Linked DNA regions of Homo sapiens: region 1 is linked to region 2. The links come from fine-mapping of genetic effects on plasma protein levels. A gene starts in region 2. The other region holds a variant in brackets. All regions are shown on one strand. Distances are from middle to middle. Region 1 overlaps TNN (tenascin N). Region 2 holds the start of TNN (tenascin N).

What was found. A credible set is the group of variants that fine-mapping cannot tell apart. PIP is the chance, under the fine-mapping model, that this variant and not a neighbour inherited with it causes the effect. The UK Biobank Pharma Proteomics Project read protein levels with antibody pairs (Olink). The fine-mapping took linkage between variants from a reference panel, not from the people measured, so its PIPs are less certain.
Region 1: its variant is the best candidate, but not a certain one, in a credible set for the plasma level of the TNN protein (UK Biobank, PIP 0.57).

The regions. Positions count from the first base shown.
Region 1 is chr1:175,085,693-175,090,044 of GRCh38, reverse strand. The region is part of intron 6 of TNN (tenascin N); the gene reads right to left. Among named protein-coding and RNA genes, the nearest start is that of TNN, 20 kb to the right of the region's middle. The variant A/G (reference allele first, on the strand shown) is at 3,531.
Region 2 is chr1:175,065,920-175,070,313 of GRCh38, reverse strand. It overlaps TNN (tenascin N), which reads right to left and starts at 2,481. Exons shown (of 19, transcript NM_022093.2): 1 at 2,379-2,481. RefSeq lists an enhancer at 1,961-3,160.

The DNA of each region.
Region 1 (4,352 bases), 20 kb before region 2:
TAGAATACAGTGATCGCGCAAATGATAGAGATTGTTGCTGTTGTCCAGATGCTAAATGTGTGTGTTGGTGGCTGTGTATGAGACAGGAGTTCTCAATGGTGACAGGAGCTCAGCCTAGGACATGAAGGAGTTTCCAAAGTTTTAGGGGCTAAGCCATTTCAAATGGAACATTGTGTTTGGAAATCAGTAAAAAGTGAAAAAGATATTAAGAAAAGCAAAACTGCTATTTCACAGCATAGTCTAAGGAGGAAAGTTCTGAGAAAATTGATGACAAGTGAATATTCTAGGCTATAACCTTTGCTGTGCATGGGAGCTTGTGAAATTATAACAAAGCAAGCATGCTTTGTTTTATACACACCAGGGAAAAGCATGAAGCTATTAACAGAATACCATCATCATAAGAAAAGAGAAAGGACTTTAAACTCATTTAGTCCAACTCTTCATTTTATAGATAGAGGACAAAAGAATGACATCACCTCTCAGTTAGTAGCCTCCCTTTCTTTTCATTGAATGGGAAGCATAGCTGTCAGGGTATGATGCAGAAGTCCAGGGACATTCCCCTCGCCAATCCCCCAGAGACACTGGCCTGGCGTATGCTTGCTGCTCCTTAAGCTGACCTGCTTCTGAGGCTGGCCTTTCTGGAAGGTGTTCCAGCGCACTTTGAGCATGTTGGGTAACAGGGTGAGGAATTTCAGTCAACCATTTCCCTGTCATGGTGTTAGTTACACTGGGTGCCTCGTTACATGAAAAATCCCTGAACGGTGTCATTTCCTCGTTTCCTCCTGCACATGCTTAGGCTGTTCTTAAGTTCCAGCATCCTTTTCCACCTGGTGGGATGCAAAACGTTTGGAGAAAACAGAGATTCTTCTTTTCCCTTAAATTAATTAACAGTCTAGCCAGGTTTAAGAGTGTTTCCTGACCCTATAAATTACAGTGTCTTTTTCTTTTTGATGCTGGTAAAACACATGACACAAATTTATTTGCAATCCAATAAAATATTCTATCCTGGTTTTAGGATATAATTGACAATAAAAACACTTTTGAGTAACAACATTCCAGTATAGGTGGAAGGCTAACTAGCAATTCAAGGCCATATGTGATTAAATGCTCTCAGACCTCAGAAACAAATCTGGCTGACATTTAATGCGGTCATAGAAGGCTGCAGTGGAGAAACTGTTTGAGCACAGCCTGGAAGGATACGTCACATTATTGCTGTGATCCCCTGAAGGAAAAGGACCATGGCTTATCAGCTCTGGAAATTTCTAAAGGGACCAGGTCTCTTTGGCCCAGATACATCCTGCAATAAATGTTTGTTGAATTAAATTAATTTGTGGCTAGAAATAATGGCAAGGGTTTTCCAGGCTAAGTAACAACAGAAACCCACTTGCAGAGATAAGCTTTCTGTTAGGAAACCCCACAAACAGTCTGGCTACAGGAAGGCTTTCCCTGGGGAAGTAATGAGAATAACAGTGGCCCAGGCTGGGTGGGCCACGGAGGCCAAGATAAAAGCATTATGCTTCCTCCTCAGTCAGTGAGGAATCATAGAAAATTTTTCAGTTAGGAAGCAAACAGTATGAAAATTAACCAGAAATAATGGGCAAGAAGGAGGGGAGGTGTGATGTTATGATTTATAACAAGAAACACATGTTTGGTTTTGGGTCCCTGATTCCTGGCACACAGCTCCTAAAACCCTTGGAATCTCCAAAGTGAGGTGTCTTCTGTATGTTAATGAGATGACTGCTGTAAGGGGTTGAGGGGTGCTCCTGGGTAGCCTCAGAAAGGGGGTGGTTTCCAGGGAACCAACATTGTGATTAGAGGATTGGAACTACCAGCCCCACCTACCCACCCCCCTAACAAGGGGAAGGAGAGAGGCGCTCACAGTTGCTAAAGGTTGAGTTAATCACCAGTGGCCAATGATGTAATCAATCATTCCTATATAATGAGGTCTCCATGAGAACCCAAAAGGACTGGGTTCAGAGTGCTTCCTGGTTGCTGAACAAGTGGAGGTTTGGGGAGGGTGGCACACCCACAGAGGCCATGGAAGCACGTACCTTGACCTATGCATCTCTTCCATCTGGTTCTTCACCTGGATCTTTGTAATATTCTTTATTATACTAAATAGGTAAACGTAAGTAAAGTGTTTCCCTGCGTTCTGTGAGCTGCTCTAGCAAATTAATGGAACTCAAGGAGGGGAGTCATAAGAACCCCCAATTTCTAGCTGATTGGTCAGAAGTACAGGTCCTAACCTGGGGACTGTGACAGGCATCTGAAGTGAGGAAAGTCTTGTGGGACTGGGCCTTTAACTTGTGGGATCTGAGGCTATTTCCAGGGAGACAATGTCAGATATGAATTGAATTATAGAACATCCAGTTTGTGTCCGATGGAAAACTCCCTGGTGTATGGGGAAAAATCACTTCCAGAGGTGAAATGTTCTGTGTTGTGTTGACTGTGTAAGAGAAGAAAAAGTGTTTATCTCTTACAGGAAGGTAAAAGTGGGAAGCACTTTAGCTTTGTAGTTTGAAATGAAAATAAAAAACTCGGGACCCCAATTCACTCTGCCAAAAGGAAAAAATAAAGCTGAAAGCTGAGTTATGCAAGAAGCTGCCTTTCCTTTTGTTCCTACGCCGGATAAAAGGTTAAATATCTCCACAGGTAGCTACTCCACGTTCACCTTATCCTGAGAAAAGTGCAAATGTACTCAACACGTAATTGACTATCCCGCTACCTGCTCCTTTCTCTTCCAACATGGGAATTATACCCTCCCTATTTCCTCTTCAGCCCACTTTTCCCATTTAAATATTGAAGTCCTCAAAATCATCTTTGGAGAAAGGTACAGACCACAGATTGTTTCTGTGATTCCATGTTTCTTTCTCCCAGGCATGTCCTTAACCTTGGAAAAATAAACTTCTAAGTTGATTAAGGCCTATCTCAGATACTTTTTGGTTTGCAGTAGCTAAGCCCAAAGGTTTAGACTTGGGTATCCTGGGTTCAAATCCCAGCTCTGTCCTTTCCTGGCTGGGCAATCTTGAGCTTAACTTCTCCAGTTTTCTTATATGTGGCAGAGAAATAATAATAGTATCTACTTCATTGGATTGCTGTGAGAACTAAATGAGATATTCATAAAAAGTGCTTAGTGATTATAATGCCTGGCACTCAGTAAGCTCTCAATTAATTCACAGCTACAGGGAATGCCACTGGAAGCACAGAAGTACTTACCATTTTCTAACCCATTAAAACAGTTCCCTAGTCCACTATTCAGGCAGACTGTACAGTCTACCTTGTCTAGTTTGTAAATTAAGTTATATGTTCTCCATTATAAATGCCCAACTATAACTGTTTCATACTGCAGATAAGCAATCTGTTAGGCAGCTGAAATAGTGAATTCAATTCTCACAACATCTCACCTCTTATTCTCACCACCATAACCAGCTATTTCCAGGACTGAATTGGAAAGAACTAAAAAACTTTTCAACGAAGACTCAAAACTCAAAGACTCCTTCTTTACCAGCTCCAAGGATTAGTCTCCCCGA[A/G]TGGCACTATGTTCTAGATCACAGGTTTCCAGCATGGGGAAGGCAGGAGCACAGAGTTAATGAGGAAGTTCACAATTCAATATGGGCTCAAGCATGGTTTAAAAACTAAAAGTTACCTAGGATGTCTCGTATGTATGCCTACCATGTTTTCCAATTCTGTTCTGATTAATAAATTACAAACTTATTGTCAAATATGACTGATTTGTAACCTTTTATCATTATATATTTTCTCAATACACAGATGACAACATACCACTACTCCCATGTGAGGGTTTTTAATATCTTTTGACATTTTAGAGGAGTCTACTGAATGTGGGCATCAGGAAAAAACACAGGTGTGGCAAGAAGAAAATTATAGATCACTTGTCTTTAGGGAATAAGGAGCTATGTGCCTATGTCCTAGATAATAAATGCCTTAAAAACAACGCGGTGATAGAAGCTATTAAAATAAGCAGAACGGTGTCAGACAGTCTTGTCCCTTGACTCCAAGACCCTGGGAGAGATTTTCAATGGCAAGAAAAATTTGAAATAGGAAAAGTTTGCTTCCCTTTCCCTGCCCAAAAATAGACATCAGTACATAAAGGGATAGACTCTCTCTACATGTAAATCCCAGAATTCTCTTTTTTTTTTTTTTTTTTTTGAGATGGAGTTTCACTCTTGTTGCCCAGGCTGGAGTGCAATGGCACGATCTCGGCTCACCACAACCTCCACCTCCCGGGCTCAAGCAATTCTCTTGCCTCAGTCTCCCGAGTAGCTGGGATTACAGGCATGCGCCACCACGCCCAGCTTATTTTGTATTTTTAGTAGAGACAGGGTTTCTCC
Region 2 (4,394 bases):
CTGACTCTTAATCTGCCTTGCAAAGGCTCAAATGAGTGATGATAATGGTAGCTACCATTTTCTATGCATTTATTACATGCCAGGCTCTGTGCAAAGCACTTTAAAATCTCCTCTTGGACATCAGGCAAAGATGTTCATTTACCCCCAGAGAATGAATCACTTTCTCACAGCAAGAACTTCCTTTAGCTTTTGTGGGACCAAGCTCATGCACAATAACAAGATAAAATAGACACGGGACCTAAATTCAGGAACCTTCCTCTCCCTTATTCAACCAAACAGCCAGTCCCCAGAATGACTAAATATTACTTTGTATACAATTAGCCCTAATATCCATGGGTGTGAGGGGCGTCAGATTAAAACAAAACAAAACAAAAAACTCTGCAATTTCTTTCTTTAGCTAACGTGTTGTTTTCCACATATTGAAGTAACTTTAAAGTTCCAGTCTTCTAGCAAGGAGGAGAGCGTTTGCTAATTTCCAAGCATTTGCACTGTTCCACTCACACTCGCTGGGTACAGATTCAAATGGTGGCTGGGCAGCATTAGCAGTGAGTCCACTGTGGCAGAAGCAGCAAAGTCCCTGTCCATCCAGAGATCAGGCCTGAGATCTTAGCAACTTCTGCTCACAGACTGGTGGCTCCAGATGTGGCTACAGGACCTAAACCATGATCTCATGTCTGTATCCAGATCCTATAGGAGCCAAGGCTCTGGAATGAGCAGTGAATGGACAAAAGTTTCCACTGGGCCTGGGCACAATTTCCTCAGGCATCTTCTCAGAAAGAGAGCTCTGCCCACCCTACATTTCAAACCACAGAGCAGCACTGGACTGGAAAACCAGAAGCCACGGGATGATTTGAAATCATTTGTTCTATTTTCCCTCCTTCGGGAGTCAGCTGCAGCCTATAAACTGGGGACAAAGCAGTACTTAGAGTTGTATGAAAGAATGCCAGGTGCCTTCTTCCCTTCTCTCCTGGAAAAATGATACCAGTATTGATACTCTATTTTTTCCTGTGTCTGACACTGTCACCTTGATTCTGAGTCTGCAACAAATGTCTGAATGTCAAGAGGCCAGCTGCCAATACGTAGCCCTGACCGAGCAAGGTATCATCTGATGCCTTGGTGACACCTCAGCTTTTCCAAGAACCAGTGGATTTTAGGCACTGTGGCTAACCTGTGTCCCAATGTGGGCAGTTTGTTACTTTTATGTTGGAACTTGTTCTTTTTTTTAATGCTTATATAAGCAACACAGGTTTCATGCTTTTAAGTGAAGCCCTGCCTGTTCTCATTCATTCTTTCTCCATCCTTCCCCCAGATCTCTCCCAAGCACAAAAATTAATAAATAAGTAAAAAGTAAGACCTCCAAAAACTAGTTTTTTTTGTTTGTTTGCTTTGTTTTGTTTTTGTTTTTTAGATGGAGTTTTGCTCTTGTTGCCCAGGCTGGAGTGCAATGGTTCAATCTCGGCTCACCGCAACCTCCACCTCCCAGGTTCAAGCAATTCTCCTGCCTCAGCCTCCCAAGTAGCTGGGATTATAGGCATGCGCCACCACGCCCGGCTAATTTTTTGTATTTTTAGTAGAGACGGAGTTTCTCCATGTTGGTCAGGCTGGTCTCGAACTCTCGACCTCAGGTGATCCACCTGCCTCAGCCTCTCAAAGTGCTGGGATTACAGGCATGAGCCACCATGCCCGGCCAACCACATCATTTTTTTAGATGTCTTGAAATGTTTTCTTTGAGGTATTGTGAGGGTAATAGTATGGGGATTTCGAGAGAAGTTGTCGTCTTAACAAATAATAATTAAAACCTGTAAAATTAAATGTCTGGAGATACTTCAAAGCTGTTCAAATGTGTTTGCAAACATCCCCTTAACTGATTCACACAAAATCCAGACAAAGGGAAAGTTATCATAGCTTCCTAATCATAACTAAAATAACAATTCTGTTTTAGGATTTAAAAGAATAATGAAATACAACAATACTAAATTATCCAAAAAAAGACAGAGAGAGAGAAAGCTTTGACATTGTAAGTAAGTTAAAAAGAAAAAAAAATGAGAAGGAACATCTTAAAGGAAACATTTTATACAAAAATGTGTTACGCCAGGTAGAAGCTGATACAACACAGACGCATCTGTGTTGCAGGAAAGAGGATAACTATGCTTAGCCCTGTCTGAGACTGGAGTATAATACTAAGGATGCAGTACACGGGTCCTGAGAGGTACTTCCCAATTCATTTTAACTCTTCATGGAGGTGATAGGAGACTAATTACACTGCCCGGATTTTCAGGCTCGGGAACGGAGGCACCTGAGCCACCACTTTTGAGCTCATCTGCATTGGCCACCTCCCTCCCTCCAGTAAGTAAAGCTTGGGCAACTGGCACTCTTACCTGGGAGGCTGCTGGGTGCCTCTTCCAATGCTGCTGCTCCTGTGAGCCGGTCTCCTCCTGCCGCAGACCTTGGTACTTGCTGGTCGTCCCTGGTTCTCGTCTCTCCTTGGCTTCCCTTCCTGGGTTTAAATCCTGTCTAGGCCAGAGGAGGAGCAAATGGAGACTCCTGGTGTTTTCCTCCCTTCCTAGCAGGGACTCTGCTAAAAGATAATGAGCAATTCCTTCTCTTATTCTAACTAGGAAAGAAAAATATATACATTTCCTTCTTCTTTTTCACTTTGATTACACAGCAGCTAAAAATACTGGAGGCTGTTTCCATTTAAGTGAATCCAGAATAAGGATATTAAAAGAGTTTGCCTGTCTCCTGGCCAGGAGCTGGGTCTCGGGGTTCAAAAGTGCATTTATAAAGTTTCTTTCTCTTTTTCCTGTTTCAGGCATTCTGGGACTTCCTGCCTACTGCTTTTAAAATGGGAAAAAGCCTTTAGCACAGAAAGAAATGAGCAGAGACCCTCAGGGACAGAAGCTCTTCTGACTTCCCTCCTCCTTCATCCATCGTCTCACACTTGTGAGTGGCAGGACTCTGAAGTGGGGGCAGGAATAACAGACTGGGGACATTCGGTCCCACAAGCCCACTCTGACCCTCACCCCATCCCAAATGCCTCCCACACGCCAACAGTACAAGAGCTCCAAAATCAGGAAAGAATAGTCGTGCCCCTTTCTGGCTGCCCTTCCTCTTTTGCCCTCAGATGGACAGGCCTTCATCCTTCCTATGAACCAGAGTCATTTCAATAGGGCATGGGCTGACACCTGCCACCCTTCCTTACACCCCATCCCTCTCCTGCTCTGTGGGAAGTAGATTCTGGAGTGCAGATCCACAACAAAATGAAGGAGACCATATGTTTCCAGTTCACCTATGTCAGCATCAAATGCTGCTGGAGGGAAAGGAGAAGGAGAGACGGGGGACCAAAAAGTGGCCCCCAGAAATTGGAGGGGGGTTCCCAGAGGCAGCTTGCCTGGATCTGAAGCTTGTGTCTGCTACTTGCAAATGACCTTTGACAACTTCTTTGTGGCTCAGCTTACTCGTCTGTAAAATAGGAATAGTGTCTTATGGTTATTGTGAGGTTCAAATGAGTAGATGGGGTAAAGAACTTAGACTAGTCCCAAGACACAATGAGGACTTGGTAAAGATTACCTGCTACCATGATTATTATAACTTTTTAATTCTCCTTATGTATCCCACTAAATCATATTTGATCCTCTCCACCTCAGTCCAGGTAGGTTCATAGTTCTCTGCCCTTCACTTACAACCACAAATAATCCTGCTATCTGGCCCTGGAATCTGGGCCAGCCATATACAGAGGTGACCAGTGCAGTAGGAACCAGGGTCACCAGAAAATTTCCCAACTCCCAAACATCTCTTTTCTCCCTTGGACTATTTTCTCTGCTTCTTAAAAGGGAAAATCTCTCCCAGAGGATCCTAAGACTCTATTGCGCCCTCAAGTTGCTCTCCTATTCTTAATTTCCTTTCACTAACTCTCCCCAAATGAGTGGTCTTCACCAACTCTCTCCGTGACCCCATTTTCCATGCCCTCAATAGGAATAACTAAACCAGTGCACCAGGCTCCTAAGAAGCCACCTTCCTCCAATCTCTCCTTATTACAGCTGGTATTAGTTAGTTGCAGGACATGGAGCTGTAGCAAAGAGACCCTCCAATGCAGTGACTTAACAACATAGATGATTTCTCCCCAAACAGTAGAAGACAGTGGCCCAGGGCTGGTAGGGCAGTGCCACCATCCACAGCACACACCCACCACTCTCTAGGGTCATCATCTCCCAGCCAACAGGAAGGGTAAAGGGATGAGGGCAGATGGAAGTGCGTGCTCATTCCTTACAAACACAAAAACAAAAACTTTTTATTTTATAATTATTTCAGACTTGCAGAAAAATTGCAAAAATATTAAAAGAATCCCTGTATACCCTTCACTCATATTCTCCAAGTGTTAACATTTTGTCATA